Homo sapiens: one gene and its partners. The protein of the gene in region 2 purifies or fractionates together with the protein of the main gene of each other region. This does not show direct contact. Each region holds a gene or a part of one and is shown on either strand. Other genes may lie near its edges.

Region 1 (3,500 bases), on a different chromosome or scaffold from region 2:
AAGACGCCATAAAAGCATTAAACACCAGTTTTAAAATATGTTCTCAAAGATGAATGGCTATGACTAAAATTTTCATGGAAATTTTCAAATGGCTACAATCTGCATGAATCTAATTCCTCAAATCAACCCTCTATTGAGAGCTAAAGCTACGTTCCTCTACAAGCTTTTTCCTAGAAATTTAAACATGGCTGCTGATAATGACAAGGAAAGAAAAGAAAACCCAACTTAGCAAAGTCTTTAAGGAACATATTTCCTTACCTTTCTTTGAAGACCTGAAGTCCTCGAACCAATCCTTCCAGACACAGGAGATCATATCTATTGGCAGGGACGTCAATTTTGTAAAGAACAACATCAGAGGCTCCTGCTGCCTTTACATTACCTTGTTCTTTACTTATTATTTCCTTCTCAGATGTCTAAAACAAGCCAAAAAGTAATGATAAAAATTAAATAATTTAAACTCTCTTTAAAAAGTAAAAGTTGTCAGCCCTATAAGGCAGTAACTACATTATACATATTTTCTATAACAAGAACATGGGATTATTATATCCACGACAAAAACAACATGAAAATATTAAGTGTTATAATCATAGCAGACAGAAAAATACTTCAGCTTTAACTGAGTTCAGATATCTGGCAACCTCAATCACCCCAGAAAAGCACAAATCCATCTAAACAAGGGTCAGCAAGCAATAGCCCCCTGGCCAAATCATACCTGATACTTGTTTTTGTAAATAAAGATTTATTGGAACACAGACAGACCCATTCATTTACATATTATCTACTGCTACTTACACACTGCAATAGCTGAGTTGTAACAGAGACTATAGAGCCAAAAAGCCTAAATATTTACTATCTGGCCCTTTACAGAAAAAGTTTTCCCATCTCAAGCTAAAAGAAAATTAAAACATCACCAAGAACATAAAGTAACAACAACAAAAGTGTCAAAGGGGTAAAAGAAAGATGATTCACTAAATAAAAGAAACACAACTTCTTATAGGATGACTCTAAAACCTAAATCCTGTGGGCACCCAAGTCCACATGAGAATGAGAGGGGTAGTATAAAAACTAAAAACAGTCAGAGACCATCAGACACTGGTAAAAATTAGAAGGGATAATAGGTACAATGGGAAGCAAACTAGTGATAGCAAAGGGATAGTGCAGCAGAATGAAGGCAGCCAAGAGGGAGATGACAGAAGAAACACCACTAGAATCACGTTTAATGCAGTGGCAAAGAGTTTAGAATATCTCAAGCACCACACTACAGCAGAGTAACAGATTTTCTTAAACATAACCACTGCAGAGAAGTTACACTCTATTCCTTATGTTTACTACAGCAGGGAACTGTAAATATATTTAAGAAATTTTCACTTGAAATGATTACAAGTTGTATTCCAACTGTTAATGTTACGCTTTAATTATGTGGAAACTCCACTTAACCAGAATTCCTACTATTTCCACCACCAACAACCTGCTAAAATAACTGATGGATTTCTATCAAAATATGTAATGATTTTTGTTTTACATGATGCCCTCCCACTGCCACAATATAAGTAGTTCAAATTTTTGTCCAAATTAAGAATTATATCCACATTTGCACAATATGCAGAGAAATTCACTTCTGGCCACGAGTATTATGTGCCAAAGTCCCACCTGAGGAACCACAGGAGTCTATGCAATGCTGGGGCTGTACAAGGTGGTGCTGGGCTCCAAAAAACCTCTACCTTGGGCATCTCAAACTTAGGAGGCAAATTTTTATAATTAGGGAAAATGAAAAATGAAAAACAAGAGAATGAAGAGGAGGAGGAAGGAGTAAAAAGGGGGAAAAGAAAAGAAGGGGAATGGGGAGAGGCAAAAAGAGAAGAGGAAGAATTCGAGTTTAAACAATGTTCAATCAAAGGGGTTAATAAAATTACTGTTTCAATAGTGAAGAAAGCTGAGTCACCTCCCAGGAGATGGCAGATCTCAGGAGGGACCTATATACAGAGAAGATAATATAATAACCGGAGAAATGAAGGCATCTGCATTCATTTTTCAGCAGCACCCCCTTATCCACAGGGGATATGTTTCAAGCTCCCCAGTGGATGCCTGAAACATTGGATAGGACTAAATGTTACATATACCATGTTTCTTCCTATACATACATACCTATGAAAAAGTTTAATTTATAAATTAGGCACAGTAAGAGATTAACAACTAATAATAAAATAGAACAATTAAAATAATATACTATAATAAGAGTAATGTGAATGTAGTCTCTTTCTGTCTCAGAATTTCTTATTGTACTATACTCACCTATTTTCAAACCACAGTTTGCTGCAGGTAACCAAAACTGTGGAGGCAAAAAACTGTGGATAAGGAGGAACTACTGTAAAAAAAGATCTAATTCCTTTGCAAAAAAAAAAAAAGACACAGAAGCTTACATCTTCTTTCAGTTTCAGCATCTCAGCTCATACAATGACCATATGTAAAGACTGAATTTGTCAGTGCTACCTGACAATAATCTTACAGAAATTTAAAATCACATAAATTTCAGAGTCAAAAAAGAAAACCATAAAGATCATATAATCCAAACCCCTTATTTCACAAATGAAAAGGAGGCCCAGAGAGACTCGTCTGGACTATAGAGTTCAGACAGGCAAAGTAATTGTCCATAGTTACACAGCTAGTAAATGTTAGAACTAGAACTCAAATAATCTAACATCCAGTCCAACACTCTTAGATATCACATAATTTCAAACATAATTCTGAGGTGTAGTAAAATTACGAATAGCAACTTATAAACTACAGAAATCTCAGCCAATTTCTCAAGTATACAAATAGATTAGTACAAAGATGATCTTTCTGTAACATTAGTAAGGCAGCAGGAAAAATAAGGTAAGATAATGTACAATTTTTTAGCCTGAACATTTTTTAACTTTACACCTAAGGTAGTGTTATAAAAGCACTGAATAGGTGAAGATAGAAGGCTTAGGAAAAAAATAATACTAACTATCAGAAAATTATCTTTTAAATTAAAGTATGTCTTTTTTTTTTTTTGAGAAAAAAATTGGGCTTTTATTGGCAATTACAAAAGTAATAGATTTTCTTACATAATACGTTCCTTCAGTAATATATTTTTCAAGTATTTTACCATAGAATTTCTAAAGTACTTTGTCATTGACCCCATAATTTATTATAAAGTAGGTCCCATAATCACATTTTTTGGAAGTTGCTGAAATTGAGATAAAAAATATTGTTTTTTTATGAGAAAAACTGGACAAAATACAGAATGGCCAAAACTAGATTAACTGGCTCAGTTATGTCTACTAGGTGAAAGAAAATACAGAATCTGTTACTGTAGAAATTTTAAGAGGTTTTGAGTCAGTTCCAGTATAAAAATAAGGCCAAAGTTCTCCTGTAAAATCATCATTAAAAGTACAGAGAAGAGATCTATCATTCAAATTATAAAAGGAAACCTCATTCATTTCACAGTCTAAAAAAATGCCAATCTTACTAGGTGT
Region 2 (3,500 bases):
TATTGCCCAGGCTGGAATGCAGTGACACAATCAGCGCTCACTGTAGCCTCAAGCCATCCTCCCACCTCAGCCCCTCAAGTAGCTGGGACTACAGGCACATGCCACCATGATAGGGTTTTACCATGTTGCCCAGGCTGGTCTCAAACTCCTGGACTCAACTGATCCGCCTGCCTTGGCGTCCCACAGTACTGGGATTACAGGCGTGAGCAACTGTGCCTGGCCTGACCTGACCTGTTGTGAAAATAACTATCTTTGCGATCACTGGGAAGGAGGGTAGCTAAGCAGGAGGGAATTTGCCCCAGCAGCTCTCTGCTTCCACTCCTCAGGAAGAGCAAGCTGAGGCATGAAGTCTTATACCTAACAGTAAGGAGGCCCCTGAAATCTGGCAGCACGCTGCAGCTGTTGAAAGTCCTCAGCCTTGGCTGTAATCCCAGCACTTTGGGAGGCCGAGGCAGGTCAGGAGTTCGAGACTAGCTTGGCCAACATGGCAAAACCCTGTCTCTACTGAAAATATAAAAATTCACTGGACATGGTGGCATATGCCTGTAATCCCAGCTACTTGGGAGGCTGAAGGCAGGAGAATCACTTGATCCCGGGAGGCAGAGGTCACAGTGAGCCAGACTGCACCACTGCACTCCAGCCTGGGCAACAGAGTGAGACTGTGTCTAAAAAAAAAAAAAAAAGAAAAGAAAAAAAAGGCCCCAGCCTTGAGGCCTAGACATGACGCATCTTAGGAGGAAGCTATTGCCCTGGAAGAACCCACTGTCTGCTGGGTTGAAGCCAGGGTTCCCCACTGGAAACCTCTAGGGCTTTAGCTACACCTTCAGTCACTGTGGTTTCCAGGTAAACAGCTGAAAGGGTGCTGGCTTTTCCAGAAAGATCTGTGTTCTGATTCTATTCCCCATTCCTCTCTTGGCCTCTGTAGGCTCTGATCACAGATGAAAGCCCCTCTTCTTTCCTTACCCTGAAATTACAAGTCAAGAAGGGAAACAAGTGCGCACAACTCAGGCTTATCAAAGCATGACTCCACATGAGGCTGTGTGACATCCCCAAGGGCCTTTAATAGAAGAGGCCCATGGACTCTGGACTCAAAGTTCAGGTACTCACATAGTGTTCCCCCAATGGGTCCCTGGAGGGCCCTCTCTAGGGGTCACAGACTTACATGAGAAGAGCCCTCACATTCCCATACACCTAAATACTAAGACCATCCATGCCTACTAATCTTGCTCCAAATCTGCCCTCAAGAAACCAATCCCTGGACAGTCCCTCCCTGGAAATCTGTCAGAGGCAGCTGAAGTGAACCCAATCCCAACGGCTCAATGACTTGTACCCAGGGCTTGTGGGAGCAGAGGGATGTCTGAGGATAAATGACAGTCCTGAGGTAAGTATGGGGGGAGATAGACAGGACTCTAGGGAAAGCAGATCGGTGGGAGTGAAATGTGAGAGATGGAAGCAGTAGGCTCTGGGGCAAAGAAAAGTCAAATCACTCCTGCAGCAGCACTAAGAACATGGAGCTGAGACTGGATTCCTGTACTACCATCAACAATCCTGAAGTCTCTCCTGGCAACTGGGGAAGAAGCATGGCCTGAGATCTTTTTACTTTCTAATTTCACACAGGCCAAAGGCCATGCATGCTTGCCTTAGCTTCTCCTTATAGCATACGAGGGAGAAACAGACCAAGAGTTTACACTCACAGGGAACATCCAAAGATCCATACATGAGCATTCTCACTGCCCTGCCCCACCCCCCTGACATGGCTGCCCATTTCTGAGAGGTGAAAGGGACAGAGACCACCACCTACTGAGAGATGAGAAAAGAGGAGAGGTTATGTGACCCATTTAAGGACACACACCAGGCAAGGGAGGTACTACAGTGCCATTCCTTCTTGAGAGATGAGCTAACAGGCTCAGAAAAGGCAAGGCTGACACTTGAAGATACAGCTGGTGAATAGAGCAGCTAGGATTTGGCCTTAAGTTTTTCTGATAACAAAGCCCAAGTGCTGAACCCACATGCTGCACGGCTTCACAGGAATCAACTCTGACCACATCCCACAGTCTTGCAGGCCTTCAGATCATACGGAATCCAGCCCTCCTCTGAGAACCTCCCAGAACTAAAGGCTTGGCTAGCAGCTTAGAGTGCTGCCTGGGGCCTAAATTGTAGGTTCTAGGGTGGGTGATCTGGGGCTGGAGTTGCCTGTTTCAGTGGCTAACCCCAGGTAAGTGAGGAGTGCTATCAAGCAGGGATATCTGTGCTTCCTTCAGAGATGGCTCTTGGGCAAATGGGGCTGGAGTAGGAAGTCTTTACAGAAAGGTGCAATTTTTTTTTTTTTTTTTTGAGAGAGTTTCGCTCTTGTTGCCCAGGCTGGAGTGCAATGGCATGATCTCGACTCACGGCAACCTCCGCTTCCCAGGTTCAAACGATTCTCCTGCCTCAGCCTCCCGAGTAGCTGGGATTACTAATAGGCATTCACCACCTCGCCCAGCTAATTTTGTATTTTTAGTAGAGACGGGGTTTCTCCATGTTGGTCAGGTTGGTCTCGAACTCCCAACCTTAGGTGATCCGCCCGCCTCGGCCTCCCTAAGTGCTGGGACTACAGGCGTGAGCCACCATGCCCGGCCTGCAATTTTTTTTTTTTTAAGCCTTCGAACATCTAAGATCTTGTTTCTAGCCTAGGGGCTGGCTGCAGAGGAGGCTGTGCCAGGCACAGTGACCTCAGAAGCTCTTTGATGACTTCACAGCTGCAGAGCCAGGACCTGTGCCATCCTGGAATTTCAAGGTCTGACTGGCTCCTGACTGCCCTCAGCTAGGATCCAGGGCCCCCTTTCCCTTCCCAACTCCCCAAGGCACCCTGCCTCCCACCTGCCAACAGGGGTGGGGGGATGAGCTGGATTGCGGTGCTGGTGGTAAGGCCCCAGCATGTGCCATTCATCCAGCCCATGGTATGGAAGGCTTGCTGAGAGGCCCTCAGGCACCACAGCTGAGGAGCAGGGCTTGCTCCCCTGGCCACCAGAGGCTTTCTCCTGCCTGACATCCATGAAGCGGCAGAACAGGCCAGGGGCAGGTGGTTTCCCCAGAGGCAGCTGCTCCAGTCAGGTGGACACACTGTTAAGGGCTGGAAACTCAGGGTTTTGTAGGTGTGGGATCTAGAATCCCCATCCAATTCTTATTCCTGCCCAGAGGCAAAAACAGAAGACAAGGCGGGTAGAGACAGCAAGTAACCCTAGGTTCTGCTCAGGAGCAAAGCTTCGGGCTAACCCAGCACCACTCTGGCTCTGGCCTCCACCATACACCTACCTTCACTATCCCACTGTTCTGCCTTCAAACGATTCTCATGTCAGGCAAAGGCTTATACAGAAATAGAATCTTCTATAGTTACAGTCCAGCAGCTTTCCCTTTGGGTGCACCTGAGACACCAGTGGATGGGTTTTAGAGGCTGCAGAGTGAACACACAAACCAGTGCACTTCCTGACCAGCCACAGGCCTCCTTCATACCTCGGGTC
Region 3 (3,500 bases), on a different chromosome or scaffold from region 2:
CTAGTAGTATGTGGTTCCTGGAAGCCAAGGGAAAGGAGATCTTGGTGAGTCATCAGCAGGATCAGGGGCTGCATGCAGAGGTCAGATGACACAAGGATTGTAATTTCCAAGAAGTGGTGGTGTTGGAGAAGGGTGCTGTGCATTGAAGGAGTGAAGGGCTGATTTGGAAGTAAAGACTTCCAAGTGTAAACATTATTTAAGAAATGTATCTTGACTGACAGGAGAGGAAGGGTATTCTATTGGGAGTACATTTAAATAATTTTTTCACACTCATTTAGAAGTTCACATGTAGAGTAGTTCTGGGAGTGGTTCAGACATATCAGCAATGCCAACCATGACCTATTTCTCTTTGTTCTTCTGCTGTGCCACCTCTATAGCTTCTCAGCTGTTGTCCTTAGGCTGGTACTCTTCTGATTTCAAATGGTTCACATCGTGTTTTAATGCAGGACTCTGAGTGTAACCAAGTTAGTCACCATTCTGAAGCAGTGAATAGTTTTTAGCAAACACCTAGATACTCTAGTCCAAAGCTACCTTTATTTCTTAGTTGAATTACTGGGATAATCTTGTCTCCCTGATACCTTTTTTCCCCTTGTAAAGTTAGTTAGCCACACAGCAGCCAAAGTGATCTTTTTTTTCACAGATAATAACATACTCCTGTTCAAAACAACATTGCTTTACATCCAGAACGTAATCCAGAGTTCTTCCCGTGGCCTTTGAGGTCCTATGTGTGGTCCCTGATAGCCACTTGACTATTGTTTCTTGCCACTCTTCCTCTTGCTCACTCTGTTCCAGCCACACTCCTTGCTGGTCTTTAGATATGCTGAGCACATTCCTACCTTTGGGTCTTTGCATTTGCTTATTTCCTTCTAATTAGAACACTCTTCTCCCAGTTCCAGGGTTTCCATGGCTCCCTTCCTCACTTTATTCAGGCCTTTGCTAAACGAAACTCTACAGAGACGGTCTCCAGGCTTTTCCATCCAAATAGCATCTATTGTCATCTTCTCACCTTGTCTTGCTTCAGTTTTCTTCATAGGTTAATCTGTTTGTATATCTCAATAGAATATATCTCCCATACGTGCAGGGACTTGATCTGTTTTGTTGATCTCAGTATAACTAATATTTGTTGAATTGAGTTAAATTAACTCAATTTGATTGAGTTATTTATTTGATGATAATGAAAAGAAATTGTTGATACAGCTGAATCTCATGAAAGTGTATGTGTGTGTTTTTTCTCTTCAATGCAGAAAACCAACCTCATAGCAAACCATTGCCCTCAGATATTGCAGTAATCATGTACACAAGTGGATCCACAGGACTTCCAAAGGGAGTCATGATCTCACATAGTAACATTATTGCTGGTATAACTGGGATGGCAGAAAGGATTCCAGAACTAGGGTATGTCATAGTAAAGTAACATTGAGTAGTTAAGTATTTATGTCTGTTATAATGTTAGCATTTGTGTCATTTTATTAATATATGGCTAAATTAGTCCCTCAGAGTCTGTTTGTAGTAGGCATTTCCTTAAAAAATAAAAAAGGACATTAAAATTAATGGCAAAATAGTTATAGTTGTGAGGTTGAAAATATATCATATAGATATATTTTAAAAAGTACAGAACTTAAATTTGTATAGTTGTAAATCCTTTGTTTTAATCAGCTTGTATTTGCTGCTGTAGTTTTTTTTATATCTAAATACAATTCAGGTGAACAGGTAACTTAATTTATCCACTAAGTATTTGTTGAGCTTCAGTATTTGGTCTCTGATTTTTCTTGTTAATACAAACTCCAGTGGTAGCAGTGGAAGGTAGAGTGGAGTGGGGAAGAGACTGATGGAGGAAACCAGATGGAAGTTTGAGGGACTGTCAAGGAAACATTGCCAGAGATGCAATTGGTATTCTGATGACCGATAGGGTACAGTGGTTGGATATTTTTGATGCTTTTATGCACAGAAATTACAAACATACACGCACACACACACTCACGTAATTGCTATGGTACTGAACTTGGGGATGGAGGAATGTCTCTTACGTATGCATACATTTCAGAAAAAATTAAGTGCAACAATTTTCTTACAGGTTTGCCTCAGTTACCTTCTATATTTTGGTTATGGGGGCAGCTCTTGAAGTATATACAAATACTTACACATTTTCTGTATATTAAGATCTAATTTATTATGTAATCCAATTCCCACAACAAGAGTCTTATCTGTAAAATTTCTGGCAGATAGTTGTGGATTCTACTTTAACTCTTCTGGTTGGCAACCCACTAGATGTAAAGACCATTTCCTCCTTGGATGATTTCTTCTGTTCTTCAAAAGAACCCTGTATTATTATTTGTTTAAGCCACTGTTTCTTGTGCCTCAGTACTTTGCTTCAGCAACGCTTATAATTCCTGAGTGCTTTTAAGTAGGACGGGAAACAGCATTCCTTCCTGCAAGTGTGCGCCTCCTTGCTTTTGGGTTGAGCTGTAATTCTTTTTCCCTCCCATCCCCAGCATCTGCCTATCCTCTGTTTTCACCTGTCTCTCTCTCTCTCTCACAAACACATACACACTTGACCAGCAAATTGATGCCCTGGGGCCCTTCCATGTGCCTTCAAGCTTGCTCCCATTATAGGGCACTTTTGGCATAGACGACACCTGACTTTTGTTTCTGACGTCTCCCTTTTCTTTTAGAGAGGAAGATGTCTACATTGGATATTTGCCTCTGGCCCATGTTCTAGAATTAAGTGCTGAGCTTGTCTGTCTTTCTCACGGATGCCGCATTGGTTACTCTTCACCACAGACTTTAGCAGATCAGGTAAGTTCAGTGTCTGTGACTTGAAATACTAAAAAATCATAGTGAATTGTAATGCATTTTTTTCAGTCAGTATGACAGTATATTGCGAGAGCGATGGTTCATTTTAAAATGAGCTTTAGCCTTTTAAGTGCTTCTTAGACTGTAAGTACATTAAAATAATTTATAATAGGCTTTTTGATCTAAGAATACCATTGAATTTTAAAAATAAGGATCACTTTATATGGATCACTTTTTCTTATTTTGTAGTCTTCAAAAATTAAAAAAGGAAGCAAAGGGGATACATCCATGTTGAAACCAACACTGATGGCAGCAGTTCCGGTAAGAAGTGACCCTTATTTAATATTGAGTATTAAAGAAGTATCACCCGCTACAAAGCATTAGTGCTAGTGAAAAATATATTGTTGACAAGGTAGTTTATGTAGGATTTATTCCTTATTGATTATAAATATTGCCTTAGGCGCTATGGGATTTCTTCAGTCTTGTTTTAGCTTGCTTTCTTATTTACTAAGCACTCAACTTAATTTCAGCTTCTGTGTGTAATTATCAACTTGTTTGCCTAAATACCTTCTTGTTAAAATAAAAATTATTTTCATGATATCTGTTGGTGAATTCATTGACACTTGAAGCCTATTGAGAGCTAGGAGGGAAAGTGTGAGATCACCTCCTTTTAAGCAAGCTGTATAGTTACCTCCTGAGTCCTCAGG
Region 4 (4,030 bases), on a different chromosome or scaffold from region 2:
CGCTAAGCCCAGGTTCCAGTGATCCTGGCCGAGGTGCCAGATGTAGGAGTTAAGGAGCCTCCCGATGACCCCAGCCCAGCTGAGCAAGTGGGCAGGACCGCGGGGATAGGCAGCTCCCAAAGGCTCCCTCCCCGCGGCAGGACCCCTGCATCTCTGTGGGAAAAGACAATTGTTGGGGCCCTAAAAAAAACAGATTTATTGATTAAAACCTCATGCATGGCCGGGCGTGGTGGTTCACGGCTGTAATCCCAGCACTTTGGGAGGCTGAGGCACGCAGGTCACCTGGCCAACATGGGGAAACCCCATGTCTACTAAAACTACAAAATGTAGCTGGGCAGGCCGGGCCGGTGGCTTGACGCCTGTAATCCCAGCACTTTGGGAGGCCGAGCGGGTGGATCACGAGGTTAGGAGATTGAGACCATCCTGGCTCACAGGGTGAAACCCTGTCTCCACTAAAACATACAAAAATATTAGCCGGGCGTGGTGGCGGGCGCCTGTAGTCCCAGCTACTCGGGAGGCTGAGGCAGGAGAATGGCTTGAACCCGGGAGGCGGAGCTTGCAGTGAGCCGAGATCGCGCCACTGCACTGCAGCCTGGGAGACAGAGACTCCATCTCTTAAAAACACAAAAAACAAACAATAAAAAAACCTCACGTCAAATGACTTCAGCACGGACTGGGCTCAGGTGCGCACCTGCTCGTGTGCACGCGTGTGTACCCACGTGTATGCATGCATGGGCGCGCGTGGGCATTCCTGTGTCTCAAGTCCCTTTCCCAGGACATCCTGGAATCAGCAGCCCCACCCTGGGCCGGGTCAGCGCGTGCCATCGGAGCCCCCACGTCAGCCTCTCTCTCCGATCGGCACCTGGCGTCCCAGTGCGCAAGCCCCACGTCATCACGGGGGCCGCTGGGCCCGGCCTGGTCTGCAGTGTGGGAAGCCGGCCAGGCCTGTGACCAGCGCCCGGGCCGAGGGCCGGACCTGCGTCCGCTGCGGGGCAGGGATACCGGGTCCCTGCAGGGAGCTCAAGCCCCAGCGCGCCCGCGAAGAGCTGCGCGGACTCCCGGCTGCTTCCCCCGAATCCCGGGCGCAGGAAGCGCGAAGCCGGACGAACGCGGGGAGCGCGCGGCGAGCCCGCCTGAGGCCGCCCCTCCCGCCGCCCGGGGTCACGCGCCGCGCGCTCCCGCCCCGCCCCGCCCCGCAGCGCCTCAGCCGACAGGGGCTTCCGAGCGAGCAGAGTCCCGCGCCCCGCACTCCATGGAGCAGCTGCTGCGCGCCGAGCTGCGCACCGCGACCCTGCGGGCCTTCGGCGGCCCCGGCGCCGGCTGCATCAGCGAGGGCCGAGCCTACGACACGGACGCAGGCCCAGTGTTCGTCAAAGTCAACCGCAGGACGCAGGTGCTGGCCCGTGCGCAGGCGGGGGCTCTGCGGGTCTCTGCGGGGCCTGGGAAGGCGGAGGGGTCGGGGGCAGGCGCATTTCCTGGGGCTGGGCCTGGGGAGGGGTCAGCTTTGGCCCTTGGGAGGTGGCACCTGCTGGGTGAGCCCGGCTCAAGCGTTCTGTGAAGGTTTGTGTCTGCACGATCCGTGACCTTCCTTTGGCCTCCATGCGCAGCGCACAGGCTTCTAGGGGTGGTTTTAACTTTCCTATCCAGCAAGCGTCGGGGGATGTGAGGCTTGGGGTCCTTGGCTCAGCTCTGGGCCGCCCCTCTCAGCCCACCGTCCTCCTGGCAGTGGGAAAGAAGCAGAGACATGGCTGGGCCCCTGGCAGGGACCCCACGGGCCAGGCCAGCGTTCTCCTTCCCACAGGCCTTGTCTGTGTTTAGACCTGATTTCTATCTCCTGCTGAAAATAGTTCTGTTTAAGAATGTATGGAAGGCCGGGCGCGGTGGTTCACACCTGTAATCCCATCACTTTGGGAGGCCGAGGTGAGTGGATCCCTGAGGTCAGGAGTTCGAGACCATCCTGGCCAACATGGTGAAACCCCGTCTCTACCAAAAAATGCAATAATTAGCCGGATGTGGTGCCACTGGCCTGTAATCCCAGCTACTCGGGAGGCTGAGGCAGGAGAATTGCTTGAACCCAGGAGATGGAGGTTGCAGTGAGCCAAGATCGCGCCATTGCACTCCAGCCTGGGCAACAAGAGGGAAACTCCGTCTCAAAAAAAAAAAAGTATGGAAAATGTTAACGGAGGAAGTGGAGAAGGTTAGCTTCAGCCTTGAGAGCCGGCAGGTGGAGAAAGGCAGGCCTGGGTGCCCTCCCGGCCCGAGTGGGCTCAGAAGGCCCTGCACACTCTGGTGGGGGAGCTCTCTGAGGGGCAGCAGGGGTCCTGGTGGGGAGTGCTGGCAGGAGGAACACCAGAGCCATGCAGCCTGGGCGTGCGATCGGATCCTCCGGCATCACCTGCTCTGCCGGCTCAGAACCAAATCCCTCAAAGTGGGGAGTCCTACTCACAGGGAAGCAGTTTTTGGTTCAGGCTTCCCACGGGCTCTGGGAAACTTCCTCAGCTGGTCCTGAAAGCTCTGCAGGGTGAGACCCCTCCTTCCCTCCCACCCCCACGAGGGGCCGGCACATAGTAGCTGCTCAGTCCATGCATAAGAGCAGGTGATGCTGGGGCCCCTGGGGCTTAGCAGCCCCAAGGCCGGGAGTTCCTGGCCTGGTGCATGGGGGGCTCGCCCTGGAGCAGGGCTGGGGTGTGCCGGCCGCCCTCCCACCTGTGGACACTCACACCCACCCTCGGTGCAGGCTGGCCAGGGCTGCCAGGCTGGGGAGGCTGTGCCTGGGCTTTCCCTGGGGTACTTTGAAGGAAAGGGCGTTCTGTTCGTGTGCACCAGCAGATGCTTTGGTCTCATTCATGAGGTTTGATTTTTTTAAACATGCAGTCCTACACTTTGGGCGACTGAGGAAAGGTGGATCACTTGAGGCCAGGAGTTTGAGACCAGCCTGGCCATCATGGTGAAATTCCATCTCTTTTTTTTTGAGACGGACTCTTGCTCTGTCGCCCAGGCTGGATCTCGGCTCACTGCAAGCTGCGCCTCCCGGTTCACTCCATTCTCCTGCCTCAGCCTCCCGAGTAGCTGGGACTACAGGTGCCCGCCACCTTGCCTGGCTAATTTTTTGTATTTTTAGTAGAGACGAGGTTTCACCGTGTTAGCCAGGATGGTCTCAATCTCCTGACCTTGTGATCCGCCCACCCCGGCCTCCCAAAGTGCTGGGATTACAGGTGCGAGCCACCACGCACGGCGGTGGAACTCCATCTCTAGTAAAAATACAGAAAAACACAGCGGGGTGGGGTGGCCCACACCTGTAATCCCAGCTACTCAGGAGGCCGAAGCAGGAGAATCGTTTGAACCCAGGAGGCGGAGGCTGCCGTGAGCCGAGATCATGCCACTGCCCTCCAGCCTGGGTGACAGAGTGAGACCCTGTCTCAAAACAAACATGCAATTCTATAGGCCAAGGTATTCATGGACCACGTTCGTCAATGCATGTTTTCAACCAATGTGTACTGTACGTGAGGTGAGTGTTCACCTAACTGAAAACTGGAATGTTTGTGGGAATATTTCAGAAACAGGAAGGCCCAGGTCCCACGGGAGGCGTTGGGGGCCGGCCGGGTGTGCCGTGCCTTTTACCTTCCCAGCCCCTGCCCTGGACCTGAGGCCCCGCCTGATGGGCCCAGCCCTCTTCTTCCCTGCCTGACGTGTGTGCCCAAGTTAGCTCCAGTGAGGCCTCTGCTGTGGCTGCCCCACCCTAAGAGGCAGCAAGGAAGGTGGGTAGCCCGGGGGTCCAGCTCTGGACCTTGGTTCACTCACACCTCCCCACGCCCTCAGTGCTCCCGGGCACCCACACGTGGCCTGTGCATCCTCCTGTCACAGCAGCCTGCAGACCCCACACCCCTCACGGCCCAGGCTCAGCCTCAGCCTTGCAGCCTCTCGTCTCCGACGGGGGGCCCCTCTGCACCCTGCCCTCTGTGGTGGACGCCAGCTCCCAGCCAGAGCCAGCTATCAGTGAATGAAGGTCCTTGTGACTCCCACGTGGTAG
Region 5 (3,906 bases), on a different chromosome or scaffold from region 2:
CGGTTCCCCCAGCTCAATGAGTGGTGTCCCTTTGCGGAGCTGGTGGCTGGCCAGCCGGCCTTCGAGGTGTGTCGTTCCATGCTGGCCTCCCTGCAGCTGGTGAGTAGCCTGGGATACGTGGGAGGGGGAGACGGTCCCCAGACCCTGCTGATGTGCCACCCCTGCAGGCCAATGACTACACAGTGGAGATAACCCAGCAGCCCGGGCTGGAGATGGCCGTGGACACCATGTCCCTGAGACTGCTCACGCACCAGCGAGCGCACAAGCGCTTCCAGACCTACGCTGCCCCCTCCATGGCCCAGCCCTGAGTGGGGAGCACCGAGGCAGGGGTGGGGGAATGTGTACTGAGGAGCCGTGTGTCTGCTCCTGGCTGGCCCGGCCTAATAAAGCAGTGTTGCCATCTCATCTTCCCCCTAAAAACCCTTTTATGTACACCTGCGCAGAGAAGAGGGCTGCCTGGCCTCCCTGGGCCGCTGGTACAGATCACACACACACACAGATTAAACGCAGCCCGTTTAATGATGGGGCCCAGACTGCAGTGGCTCAAGACAGGACACTGCGGAAAGCCGCCATGTGCCGCCGCACACTGTCTGAGATCTGCTCAGCCGATCTGCTCCGGCCGTAGTAATCCGTGAAGAGGCCGTCAGGGTTGAGCAGGTAGATGGCAATGGAGTGGTCCACGATGTAGTCCTGGTCCTCATCCTTGGGGCCTGCATTGTAGTACACGCGGTAACTGTGACTAGCCTGGGCAACCTGTTTGGTGGAGCCGGTCAGACCCAACAGTCTTGGGTGGAAGTCCTGGACGTAGCGGGCCATGGCTTCAACGTCGTCCCGCTCGGGGTCCACAGTGATGAAGACAGGCTGCACTGGAGGCAAACCAGGCTCTGCTTCCAGCTGCCGCACCACCTGCACCAGCTTCTCCAGCTCGTCTGGGCAGATGTCAGGGCAGTGAGTGAAGCCAAAGTACATCAGCACCCACTGGCCCCGGAAGTCAGCCTTGCAGCGAGCCCGGCCTCTGTGATCCAGCAGGTGGAAGTCGCCCTGGCCCACAGCTGCCTGGCGCAGGGCTTCTGTTCGCTTTTGCTGCTGCAGCCTCTCCTTCTCAGCCCTCAGGGCCAGCCAGGCCCCACCGAGTCCAGCCCCGAACAGGCCTGTGATCAGCAGCCGGGTTCGAAGCCCAGGGCCCTGGGGCTGGCCCTGCCCACCTGTCTCTGCAGGGCCCTGCCTTGACAAAAGCCAGGACCTCAGATGCAGGGCCTGGCCTCCCAGGGTCCCAGGGAGGACCCGAGGCTTGAGCTGAGAGAGCCTGTGCCAAGCTGTGGGGCTCCGAGTCAGCAGCAGCATGGATCTGATGCTCCTGGAAACAAGCACAGGCGTCAGGAGCCAGAAGGGAAGGCCCAGGACAGTGCCTGGGCTGCCCCTGCGACTTGAGACCAGCCACCCATCTGAAGGACCCAGCCCACGTTCAGGCTTAACAGGCATTTGCAGCTGCTCACCTGAGCTCAGAACTCCACCTCCACCAAACATCCACACCTGGGCAACCACACCTGTCACTCCTGTCCTCTACCTGGGATCACCAGCCTGTCACCGCACCCTGCCCTGCACCTGCACCTCAGCAAGGTGAACCTCTTGCTGACGGAAAGCATTCCAAGTGCATGCCTTGCCTGAACTAACCACGTTATCTATTTGCAATAAACCCATTTCTTAAAAGGAGGTGGGTAACTCTCTGGCTTGCAATCCCCGAGAGCAACCGATTCCTCCAACACTTTCCTGTTACCTCCAGCCACTTCAACCAACCGCGGCCTTCCTCCACACTCCCAGCAGAAAACCTGCACGACCTACCCCCGGAGCTCAGACTCTGCCCGCCGGCTGTGTTTAACCTCTCCTGGCAGAGACGCACGACACTTCCACCCGCCACAAAACCCCACCCTCCTCACATCCAGGCTTCCCAGCAGCTCCTCCGGGCTCACAGCCGACGCCCTGCCTTTGCGTTGGTGACCTTTGAGCCTTTCCCACGGGCCCCCGCAGAAGGTTTGCTAGGTGGAGGTCTCAGGACTCCCGGTCACTGCCCCCTCCTGCTGAGGGCACCCTCCCGAGGACTCACTGCACCCCCGCCCGGGCGGTTCTGGGTTTGTGCCCTCCCCAGCAAGGCCAGCGCCCTCGTGGCCAGAAAGGTTCCAGGACCACTCGAAGCGCCGCGCGAGCGCGTTATAACTGTGCTTGGCCGCGAGAACACCGGTGCCTGCTGGGAGCCTCCCACGGGCGCCCCAGCCTCGCTCCGGCCTCCAGCGCGCCCTGGGGTGTGCCCCGCCAGCCCCGCGCAGTAGCCGGAGCTGGGAAACTACCCCGGAGTCCAGCGAGTCCTCAGGGCTACCTCCTCCCCTCCCAGCCCCGGCGTCCGCACCTCGCGGCGGGGCCGCGCGTCAGTGGACCAAGCACGAGAGGAAGCGCCGACCTCCAGCTCCCTGCGCTCTGCCCCGCCGGCTCAGGGAAAGCGGGCGCCACACGCTCACAGGCAGGGCGCAGGCGTCCCCGGAGCTGCGCATGCGCACACGGGCGCAGCCGCTGACAGGCTCTCAGCGCGTGCGCGGAAGGCGGAGCCCGCCGGGGGTCACGTGTTCATCGAGACGGCCCCCGCCTCCGCAGCCCTGGATCCTTCCGCTCCCGCCCAAGCACTGACAAGGTTTCGCGGCAAAGGAGCTTTATTGCTGCGGCGGCAGAACGAGCTCTGCGAAGGGCGAGGGGGCGGCGAATGGCGCGCGGTCGGAGAGTACGAGCGCCTCCTGCAGGGCGCGGCTCTGCGGGCCGCTGAGCGCGGGGCCGTCCCGGTGCACGCGGAGCCAGGGGGTCCCTGCAGAGCGAGGGGCTGTTAGAGGCCGCGCGGCCGGAGCTGGGCGGGGGTGCGGGGCCAGCAGGGCGGGGGCGGCGCTCACCACGGCGCAGCCTCTGACCCACGTCGACCAGCAGCTCTGCGCCCACCCCCAGGCGGAGCGGCTCCCCAGCGCGGCTGCGCCCGGCCCCGAGCTCGTGCAGCACCAGCGCCAGCGGCAGCGCCCGGACCAGCTCCACGGTGCCTGCGGGGAGAGGGGCTGAGAGGCGCGGGCTCGGGAAGGGGCGGGGCCTCGGGAAGGGAAGGGGATGGCGGAGGCGGAAGGACGGGGACTCCCCCGACGCTCACCATCTGCGGGCGCCAGCAGCTCCTCCTGCTCCCGGGCGCGAGGCAGCAGCTGCCGGCGTTCTGCGGGACTTCCCGAGCACAGGGCTCGGGCCAGACCGGGATCCACGCCCTGCGCCGCCAGCATCCGCTCGAAGCGGCCAAGGGCCGAGCCGTCGTCCAGCGCCGCGGCCACCCGGGCAGCGCCCTGGGCCTGAGTCCCCGCGTGTCCGCTGAGCCAGAGCAGGGCGCCCCCTGCGGGCGGGGACGGGTCTTAGGCGCGGCCGGGTCGGGGCGGCCCCAGCGGGAAGCACCCCCCGCCGCCTCCGCTCCCCTACACCCCGTCCCCCTCACCGAGCGTGGTGACCAGGTCCCTTAAGTCTGGCGGGCCTGCGCCGTCCATGCAGAGCAGCGCCTCCTCCACCTCCAGGGCGTGGCCCACGCAGCGACCCAGGGGCTTGTCCATGGCGGTCAGCGCTGCCGCGACCCGAAGCCCTAGGCTGGCTCCCACGCCAACCTGCGGAGAGGAGGCTCAGCGTGGACCCCCCATGGCGGGGCCTTCTGCAGCCGGTTCTTGGTCGAACTCCAGCCCCTGCTGCACCCTGGGTTGCCAGCCCCCCAGCATGAAGTCAGGGAAGGATTGGGGTGGGGAAGAGACACGAGTGAAGTGCGACACCTCGCCATGGGGCCAGGAGGAACTTGTACTTGGTCTGGGGCAGGAACGCCACAGAGGGCTTCCCCAGGTCCAGGCC
Region 6 (3,500 bases), on a different chromosome or scaffold from region 2:
AAGTCAGGACAAGTTTGGTACATTTAAGGAACAGAAAGAAGGCCAGCATGGATAGAGGTAGAAAGTGATGTTGGAGAAATAAGCTGAGTCACATCAGGTGGGGCTAGGTTGGCTAAGCTAAGAAGCCTGATGTCATTGTGAGTGTACTGAAAGCCATTGGAGGGTTTTGAGTAGGGGCATGACCTGGTCTGATTTCCTTACAAAAGGTGGCTCTGGCTAGCTGGGGGGTTGGGGGTGCAGGGTACCCAGTTAAGAGGTTCTAACAGTGGTTCCTGTGAGAGATCATGGCAACCTGGATAGAATAACTGGAGTAGAGGTGACCAGAGGAGAGAGAGAGACTTTGGAGATGGGGTTGATAGGACTCACTAATGGAATTGATGTGGGGTTGGAGACAAACTCCTGGGTTTTTGGTCTGGGTAACAGGTGAATGATTGATGGTGCTGCTTAATGAATGAGGATAACTTGGCAGAGAGCAGTTCTGGACAGAACAGAAGGTATGGACAGTCAGGCAGCTGAGTATGACGGAGGACCAAGAGTGTGTGCGCCAGAAAGTGGTTATAACGGGCTGAGCGTGGTGGCTCACACCTGTAACATCCCAGCACTTTGGGGGGCTGAGGCGGGAGGATTGCTTGAGCCCAGGAGTTGGAGACCAACCTATGCAACATGGCAAAAGTCCATCTCTACAAAAAATGCAAAAAGTAGCCAGGTGTGGTGGCACGTGCCTGTAGTTCTAGCTACTCAGGAAGGACATGGGAGGATCACTTGAGCCTGGAAGGTCAAGGCTGCAGTGAGTCTTGATCATGCCACTGCACTCAGCCTGGACGACAAGCAAGACTCTATCTCAAAATAAATACATAAATAAATTTAAAAAGAAACAAACGCCTGGGTGCGGTGGCTCACACCTGTAATCCCAGCACTTTGAGAGGTCAGGGCGGGCAGATCACCTGAGGTCTGGAGTTCGAAACCAGCCTGGCCAACATGGTGAAACCCTGTCTCTACTAAAAATACAAAAATTAGCTGGGTGTGGTGACACACACCTGTAATCCCAGCTACTTGGGAGGCTGAAGCAGGAGAATCGCTTGAACCTGGGAGGTGGAAGTTGCAGTGAGCCGAGATCGCACCACTGCACTCCAGCCTGGGCAACCGAGTGAGACTCTGCCTCAAAAAATAAATAAATAAAAAAAAATAAAAATAAACACAAGACAAAATGGACTTTAAGGCAAACATAGTACTAAAGATAAAGTCACTTAGAGAATGTGCAGTTCACCAGCAACATATAATGATTCTAATCTTAAATGTTTCTAAATAATATAGCCTGAGAATATTCATAGAGCAAAAATTTGTTTTAAAGTTATTATAATGATAGGCTGGGGTTCTGGGATGAAGACGGAGGTGAGGTCACAGAAGGGGATGATGGACAGTGAAAGGTAGTCCCACTAGTGTGTTGGTGGCCTCAACTGAGCTGTTGCTGGAATAGGTATCCTAGAATTAGGGAGTGAGAAGGATAGGGCATGGTGGGGAGAGTGTGGATCCTTGAAATGGAGATTTAGGAGGTGGTACAGTTTTTGATAATGATGAGATCTGGGCTATGACCATGGGAGTGGGTGGCTGACATGTGGTAACAGGAGAAAATCACTGGGATGGAGTGAATGGCTCAGGTACATGGACCAAGATGCCACAAGCGTTGTTTGTGTTGCAGAACAAGATTGTGGACCAGTGTGAGAGGCTGCAGTTACAGAGTGCTGCCATCACCAAGTATGTGGCGGACGTCCTGCCGGGGAAGAATCAAAGAGCAGTGGTAATTCCTCTTCTTTCCTCTCTACTCAGCCCCCTCCCAGGATAAGGCCTTAGACTTAGGGACTTGGGCAAGTCTAGGGTCCCTTACCAACCTCACAGACTCATTGTGCTACTAGCAAAGCTTCTCATCCCTCAGAGACTCAATTTTACCATCTGGGCAGGGTGGGCTTGTTCCTGTACCATACTTGGTGCAAAGACTCTGCTAGCAAATGACTTTCTTGGGTATCTTGGCATAGGGGATCAAGAAGGGTCGTATTCTTCTACCATCTGGTCATTTTCTGCCCAGCTGCAGAATTATAAAATAACCTAGGACTTTTACATTGAATATTCTCTGTGACAATCTTATGAAGTAGATAGCAGTAACATCCCCATTTACAAATAGGAAAATGGGTCCTTATAGAGGTTAAAGAGGTTAACTGACCTGTCCAAGGACCCCATAGCCTCCTGGCAGTCGGTTCTGTGACCTGGATCTTCTGTCTCCTAGGCTAGTGCTCCTTCTGCTGCATCCCACTGCTGATTCTTTTTTTTAATTTTTTTTCTTTTTGAGATGGGGCCTCACTCTGTTGCCCAGGCTGGAGTGCAGTGGTGTGATCTTGGCCCACAGTAACCCCTGGTTCAAGCAATTCTCCTGCCTCAGCCTCCCAAAGTGCTGGGATTACAGATGCCTGCCACCATGAGTGGCTAACTTTGTAAATTTTTAGTAGAGACGGGGTTTTACCATATTGACCAGGCTGGTCTCGAACTCCTGGGCTTAAGCCAACCTCCCTCCTTGGCCTTCCAAAGTACTAGGATTACAGGTGTGAGCCGCCATGCCTGGCCTCCACTGCAGATTTTTTTATTCAGTGGACTCATTACCACTGCTGTGTCATCACTTTCAAGTATGCCTATCAGGGGCAGAGCCTATGAATTTCTTTCTGCATATCCCCTCCCTCCTTTCCCTATAGTACACGGAACAGACTTGGTACCACATTAGTCAGAGTTCTTTTAATTGCATGGAACAGAACCCAGTTGAACAAGTATAAGCAAAATGGGGCATTTCCTGACAGGACACTAGGGGTCCTCTTAGGACCTAAAAGGGGCTAGACCAGGAACCAGAAAGCTGCTAGGAGTCCAGGCAGCTACTTGGTGCCCATCTATGCTTTGCTTTTGCATGATGGTCTCCATCTCCCTCCCCTGCCCTCTTCCCCTCTTCTTCTTTATCCTTTTTATTTTCTTGTCTTACTGCACTGGTTATGACCTTAGTACTGTGTTAAATAGAAGCTAGTGTGGCAAATCCTGGCTTTTTTTTTTTTTTGAGACAGAGTTTCACTCTTGTTGCTCAGACTGGAGTGCAATGGCGCGATCTCGGCTCACTGAAACCTCCGTCTCCTGGGTTCGAGCGATTCTCCTGCTTCAGCCTCCCGTGTAGCTGGGATTACAAGCGCCCACCACGACACCCAGCTAATTTTTTGTATTTTTAGTAGAGATGGAGTTTCACCATGTTGGCCAGGCTGTTCTTGAACTCCTGACCTTAGGTGATCTGCCCACCTCGGCCTCCCAAAGTGCTGGGATTACAGGCGTGAGCCACTGTGCCTGGCCCGACAAATCCTGACTTTAAGAGGAAAGCTACCAATATTTCACCAGTTATTTATTTAACAAATCTTTATTGAGCACCTACCATGTGCCAGATACTGTTGTTCAATGGGTTAGGCATTCTCCAGTGA
Region 7 (3,500 bases), on a different chromosome or scaffold from region 2:
GGGCCCCCCCATGTCACTCTGGGTGACAGTGAGACTCAGTCTCAAAAAAACAAAACAAAACAAACTTGCATGGGACATATTCAGCCTGCAGTGATTTTTCTAGATCAGCCCGTGTCCTAATGGTGACCAGGATTTTCTCTCCTAACACAGGCCCATGCTATCTGACTCCTGGTGGTCAGAGAAGGGCAGCAATGTCCCCACTTCACCCTCAAGGTCCTGGGACACTCACCCCCAGGTAGAGCTGAATGGTGTCACCCTTGATGGCAGGATACAGAAGGTCAAACTCCAGACGGTCAATGCTGAGGGAAATGGGCACTGCTCAAGGACAAGAAGAAAGTTCTGTGAGGGTGGAGGGCAGTATTGGAGGGGGAAGTTGGGGGGCTGCTTCCAGGTGGAGCTGTACTGTTGCATGGGGGGGCAGGTAGGGAGGAGCAGGTAATAATGATGTTGATAATAATGATGCAAACAGTGATGACAGTGACATTTATCGAGCATCCACTAAGTGCCAGGCCTCTGCATGTCAGCTGGTTCATCTGCATGATAACGTTAGGAAGTAGGTCTTATTATTACCCCCTTTTACAGATGGTGAAACCAAGTCTGAGGAAAGGGAAATGACCTGTTCAAAGCCATACTATGAGAGCATGGGAACCCAGTCGGTTTTATGCCAAAGTCCCGGTTTGGAACGGAACTGAACTATTGTATGTAACACTCCACCGCCCCTACCAGACTGAAAGCCGCGTCCCCCATGCAGGTGGTTCTGGGTCTGGACACCCTATGAGCACCTGGATCTCAAGGAAGCTTAGGCTGGAAGCCAGAGGCCTGGTAACATCTACTCTGAAATCCAAACTGGCTCCTCTGCTCCCCCCAAAGATCTCGTGTTCGCGTCAGAATTCCCCACTTGGCCGCCAGGTGGCGGTGGTGTGTCACCTGCCCCGGTGTATGGCCGAGGATGGGGAGTGCTGGAGGGCCAGGGACCGGCCGCCTACCGCTCCAGGGAGACCTCCGGGCCCGTCCTCGGGGCAGCGGAGGAGCCAGCTGGACTTCGGTTTGAGCCCCAGTGACCTTGGCTGGTCTCTTCTCGCGTCTGAATCTGTTTCCTCGTCTTAAAATGAGGGTATAGTGCCCGCCAGGGCAGCACATGTACTAAAATCGGAAGGACATAGAGACGATGAGCATGACTCCTGTAAAAATTACTTTAAAAAAAGAAAAAAGGTCCGTCTCCAAAAAAAAAAAAAAAGTATATTAAAGTCAATAAGGTCCCCGAAAATGGCTATAACAACAACAAAAAAATGTGATTTACAAAGAGAAATCTACAGACTTGTCAACAAAATGTAATGTGTGAACTCTGGATCCTACTCTGAATACTGACCAAATATCTGACGATTGGAAGAACTCTTTGGGAATTAAAAAAAAAAAAAAGAAAAAAGGAAAGAAACGGCGGTAGAATAGTAATTCCTGCTTCATGTATACAACTGGCACCTAGTAACGGCTCAATCCGAATGACACTCGCTCAGAACTCAAGTCTTCCTCTATCACCAACTGCCTCTGTGAACTTGGACAGTGACTTCATTGCTCGGAGCCTCTTTCATCACAGTGAAGGGGGGTCATGACTGCCACCTCATGGAGTTGTCTGAGGAGTCAGTGAGATGTGCCTATACAAAACACCCAGCGGGAGGGCGTGGCCCATGGCAGATGCCCTGTGGCGCTCAGTGCATGCTGCTCTCCCTTCTCCTCTCTGGTCGCCCTTGGAATGAGCCTCTTCTGATCCCAAAGTGCAGTTGGTAGACTTTTCTTCTTCTCCGCCAGTTTCCACTCTGGGGGCCTGAGCATGGCAGAGTTCTGATGTGGGGGCAGGAGCCTGTGCCCTCCCGTATCTGCTATGCTGGGGGAGGGAGAAATGACTTCCTTCCGTCTTTGCCCTTCGAATCATCTCTGATTTTTATTTTTTAAACCAGATATCTCAGTTTTTAACCCATGCTTTAATTTCTCAGATACCTCAAACCCTTTGGATGGAGGGAAAATTTGAAACTGCAACGAGATGGATAGAACTATTTGATGCTGCAGTTTTCTAAAGTATCCATAAAAACTAGTCCGGGGGCTGCGTGTGATGGCTCATGCTTGTAATCTTAGCATCTTCTGTCTGTCCATCCATCCATCCATCCATCTATCCATCCATCCATTTAGCATGCATTTGTAAGTGCTTCTCTGTGCCAAGAGGGACACCTGCTATGTGCCCAGAACTTTCCTGTAGACTTTTATTCCTCACTAACAATCCTATGTTGTAGGGATGGTTAAGCCCCATTTTATGGATGAGGAAACCGAGGATGAGGAGGTAAATTAGCTTTCCCAAAGTCATGGAGCAAGTCAGGGGCAGAGCTGGGATTTGAACTTGGGGCATCCACTGACCTGACAACTGCACAAATAGTAAGAGCTCATGAAGTCCTAGTCGTGGCGAATTTCTGTCTGCGCGTCTGGGGCAGGGATCAACTGATGCTTGTCTCACCTGCTTCTGGGCCTGAGTTGCAGCTCAGGCCTGACTTGGGGAGGCCTTCCCTTGGTGGAGTCAGGGTCTGGAGGCCAGCTCCGTAGTAAAGGAAAAAGTGGGAGAGAGAGCAGAGCACCTACCCTTCACCAGCTGCAGGAGGTCTGCATACATGCCATTGAAGGAAGCCTCGATCACGGGACACAGCTGCAACAGCATAAGCAAGGGGCTCCATCAGGGAGGGGCCAGAATGCAGCCCCACAGCAGCCCCGGGCTGTGCCCAGCCCACCTGGCCTGTGTCCTACTGCTGTGCCCATGGCCAGCCAGGTTCCATCCATGGGTTGAGGATTCATTCGTGTGTTGAACCCAGCCTGCAGGGCCACCTGGGACCTTTTGCAGTGGTTTGTCCCTTTCCCTGTGCCCAGGGTGTGCTTGGCCTGCCAGCAGCCCTCCCTCTCTGACTCCTTGTCTTGCTCACAGGTGTCTATGTTTTCCATGAGAGTGAAATGGAGGCTGGGCGCAATGGCTCATGCCTGTAATCCCAGCACTTTGGGAAGCCAAGGTGGGTGGATCGCTTGAGGCCAGGAGTTTGAGACCAGCCTGGCCAGCATGGTGAAACCTCATCTCTACTAAAGATACAAAAAGCCAGGCATGGTGGTGCACTCCTGTAATCCAAGCTACTTGGTTGGCTGAAGCACAAGGATTGCTTGAACCTGGGAGGTGGAGGTTGCAGTGAGCTGGAATCGTGCTACTGCACTCCAGCCTGGGTGACAGAGCAAGACTCTACTTTAAAAGAAAAAACAAGAGTTAAATGGAGAATTTGTTTATTCATACAGCAAGTTGCTACTGAGTTCTTTTCACATGTCAGACTCTGGAACAGAGGCCAGCAAGGCAGACCCAACCAGACTCCTGGGCAATCTCTTTGTGCCCTTTGTGGCTTTCTAGCCCAACACATCCCTTTGCTCACTGGGCACTTCTCTTCCTAAAATTGCCAGCAGTCCTCAACAGGGGGAGATTT

Evidence for each region.
Region 1: the proteins of MTMR14 (region 2) and FARSB purify together in Homo sapiens (affinity purification with mass spectrometry, with the first as the bait; one large-scale study listed by BioGRID). This does not show direct contact.
Region 3: the proteins of MTMR14 (region 2) and ACSL3 purify together in Homo sapiens (affinity purification with mass spectrometry; one large-scale study listed by BioGRID and IntAct). This does not show direct contact.
Region 4: the proteins of MTMR14 (region 2) and FN3K purify together in Homo sapiens (affinity purification with mass spectrometry, with the first as the bait; one large-scale study listed by BioGRID). This does not show direct contact.
Region 5: the proteins of MTMR14 (region 2) and SCO2 purify together in Homo sapiens (affinity purification with mass spectrometry, with the first as the bait; 2 studies listed by BioGRID). This does not show direct contact.
Region 6: the proteins of MTMR14 (region 2) and BSPRY purify together in Homo sapiens (affinity purification with mass spectrometry, with the first as the bait; one large-scale study listed by BioGRID). This does not show direct contact.
Region 7: the proteins of MTMR14 (region 2) and BPIFB1 purify together in Homo sapiens (affinity purification with mass spectrometry, with the first as the bait; one large-scale study listed by BioGRID). This does not show direct contact.

Annotation. Positions count from the first base shown.
Region 1 is NC_000002.12:222,642,593-222,646,092, forward strand, and holds part of FARSB (phenylalanine--tRNA ligase beta subunit), read right to left. Parts: exon of another isoform or gene 3,030-3,500; intron 2,330-3,029; exon of another isoform or gene 2,293-2,329; intron 414-2,292; coding exon 259-413; intron 1-258.
Region 2 is NC_000003.12:9,698,005-9,701,504, reverse strand, and holds part of MTMR14 (phosphatidylinositol-3,5-bisphosphate 3-phosphatase MTMR14), read right to left. Parts: exon of another isoform or gene 3,295-3,500; intron 3,170-3,294; exon of another isoform or gene 1,013-3,169; intron 1-1,012. UniProt on the Homo sapiens protein: Lipid phosphatase that specifically dephosphorylates the D-3 position of phosphatidylinositol 3-phosphate and phosphatidylinositol 3,5-bisphosphate, generating phosphatidylinositol and phosphatidylinositol 5-phosphate.
Region 3 is NC_000002.12:222,920,036-222,923,535, forward strand, and holds part of ACSL3 (fatty acid CoA ligase Acsl3), read left to right. Parts: intron 1-1,244; coding exon 1,245-1,395; intron 1,396-2,672; coding exon 2,673-2,796; intron 2,797-3,042; coding exon 3,043-3,114; intron 3,115-3,500. UniProt on the Homo sapiens protein: Acyl-CoA synthetases (ACSL) activates long-chain fatty acids for both synthesis of cellular lipids, and degradation via beta-oxidation.
Region 4 is NC_000017.11:82,734,385-82,738,414, forward strand, and holds the start of FN3K (fructosamine-3-kinase), read left to right. Parts: upstream 1-1,230; 5' UTR 1,231-1,252; coding exon 1,253-1,393; intron 1,394-4,030. UniProt on the Homo sapiens protein: Fructosamine-3-kinase involved in protein deglycation by mediating phosphorylation of fructoselysine residues on glycated proteins, to generate fructoselysine-3 phosphate.
Region 5 is NC_000022.11:50,523,068-50,526,973, forward strand, and holds SCO2 (protein SCO2 homolog, mitochondrial precursor), read right to left. Parts: upstream 2,532-3,906; 5' UTR 2,405-2,531; exon of another isoform or gene 2,375-2,404; intron 1,714-2,374; exon of another isoform or gene 1,358-1,713; 5' UTR 1,345-1,357; coding exon 544-1,344; 3' UTR 501-543; downstream 1-500. Other genes in the region: NCAPH2 (condensin-2 complex subunit H2), read left to right, coding at 1-99, 168-308; TYMP (thymidine phosphorylase), read right to left, coding at 2,703-2,851, 2,934-3,089, 3,179-3,409, 3,509-3,671. UniProt on the Homo sapiens protein: Copper metallochaperone essential for the synthesis and maturation of cytochrome c oxidase subunit II (MT-CO2/COX2) by facilitating the incorporation of copper into the Cu(A) site of MT-CO2/COX2.
Region 6 is NC_000009.12:113,352,541-113,356,040, forward strand, and holds part of BSPRY (B box and SPRY domain-containing protein), read left to right. Parts: intron 1-1,699; coding exon 1,700-1,798; intron 1,799-3,500. UniProt on the Homo sapiens protein: May regulate epithelial calcium transport by inhibiting TRPV5 activity.
Region 7 is NC_000020.11:33,296,714-33,300,213, reverse strand, and holds part of BPIFB1 (BPI fold-containing family B member 1 precursor), read right to left. Parts: intron 2,690-3,500; coding exon 2,626-2,689; intron 2,098-2,625; exon of another isoform or gene 1,370-2,097; intron 1,144-1,369; exon of another isoform or gene 361-1,143; intron 316-360; coding exon 230-315; intron 1-229. UniProt on the Homo sapiens protein: May play a role in innate immunity in mouth, nose and lungs. Binds bacterial lipopolysaccharide (LPS) and modulates the cellular responses to LPS.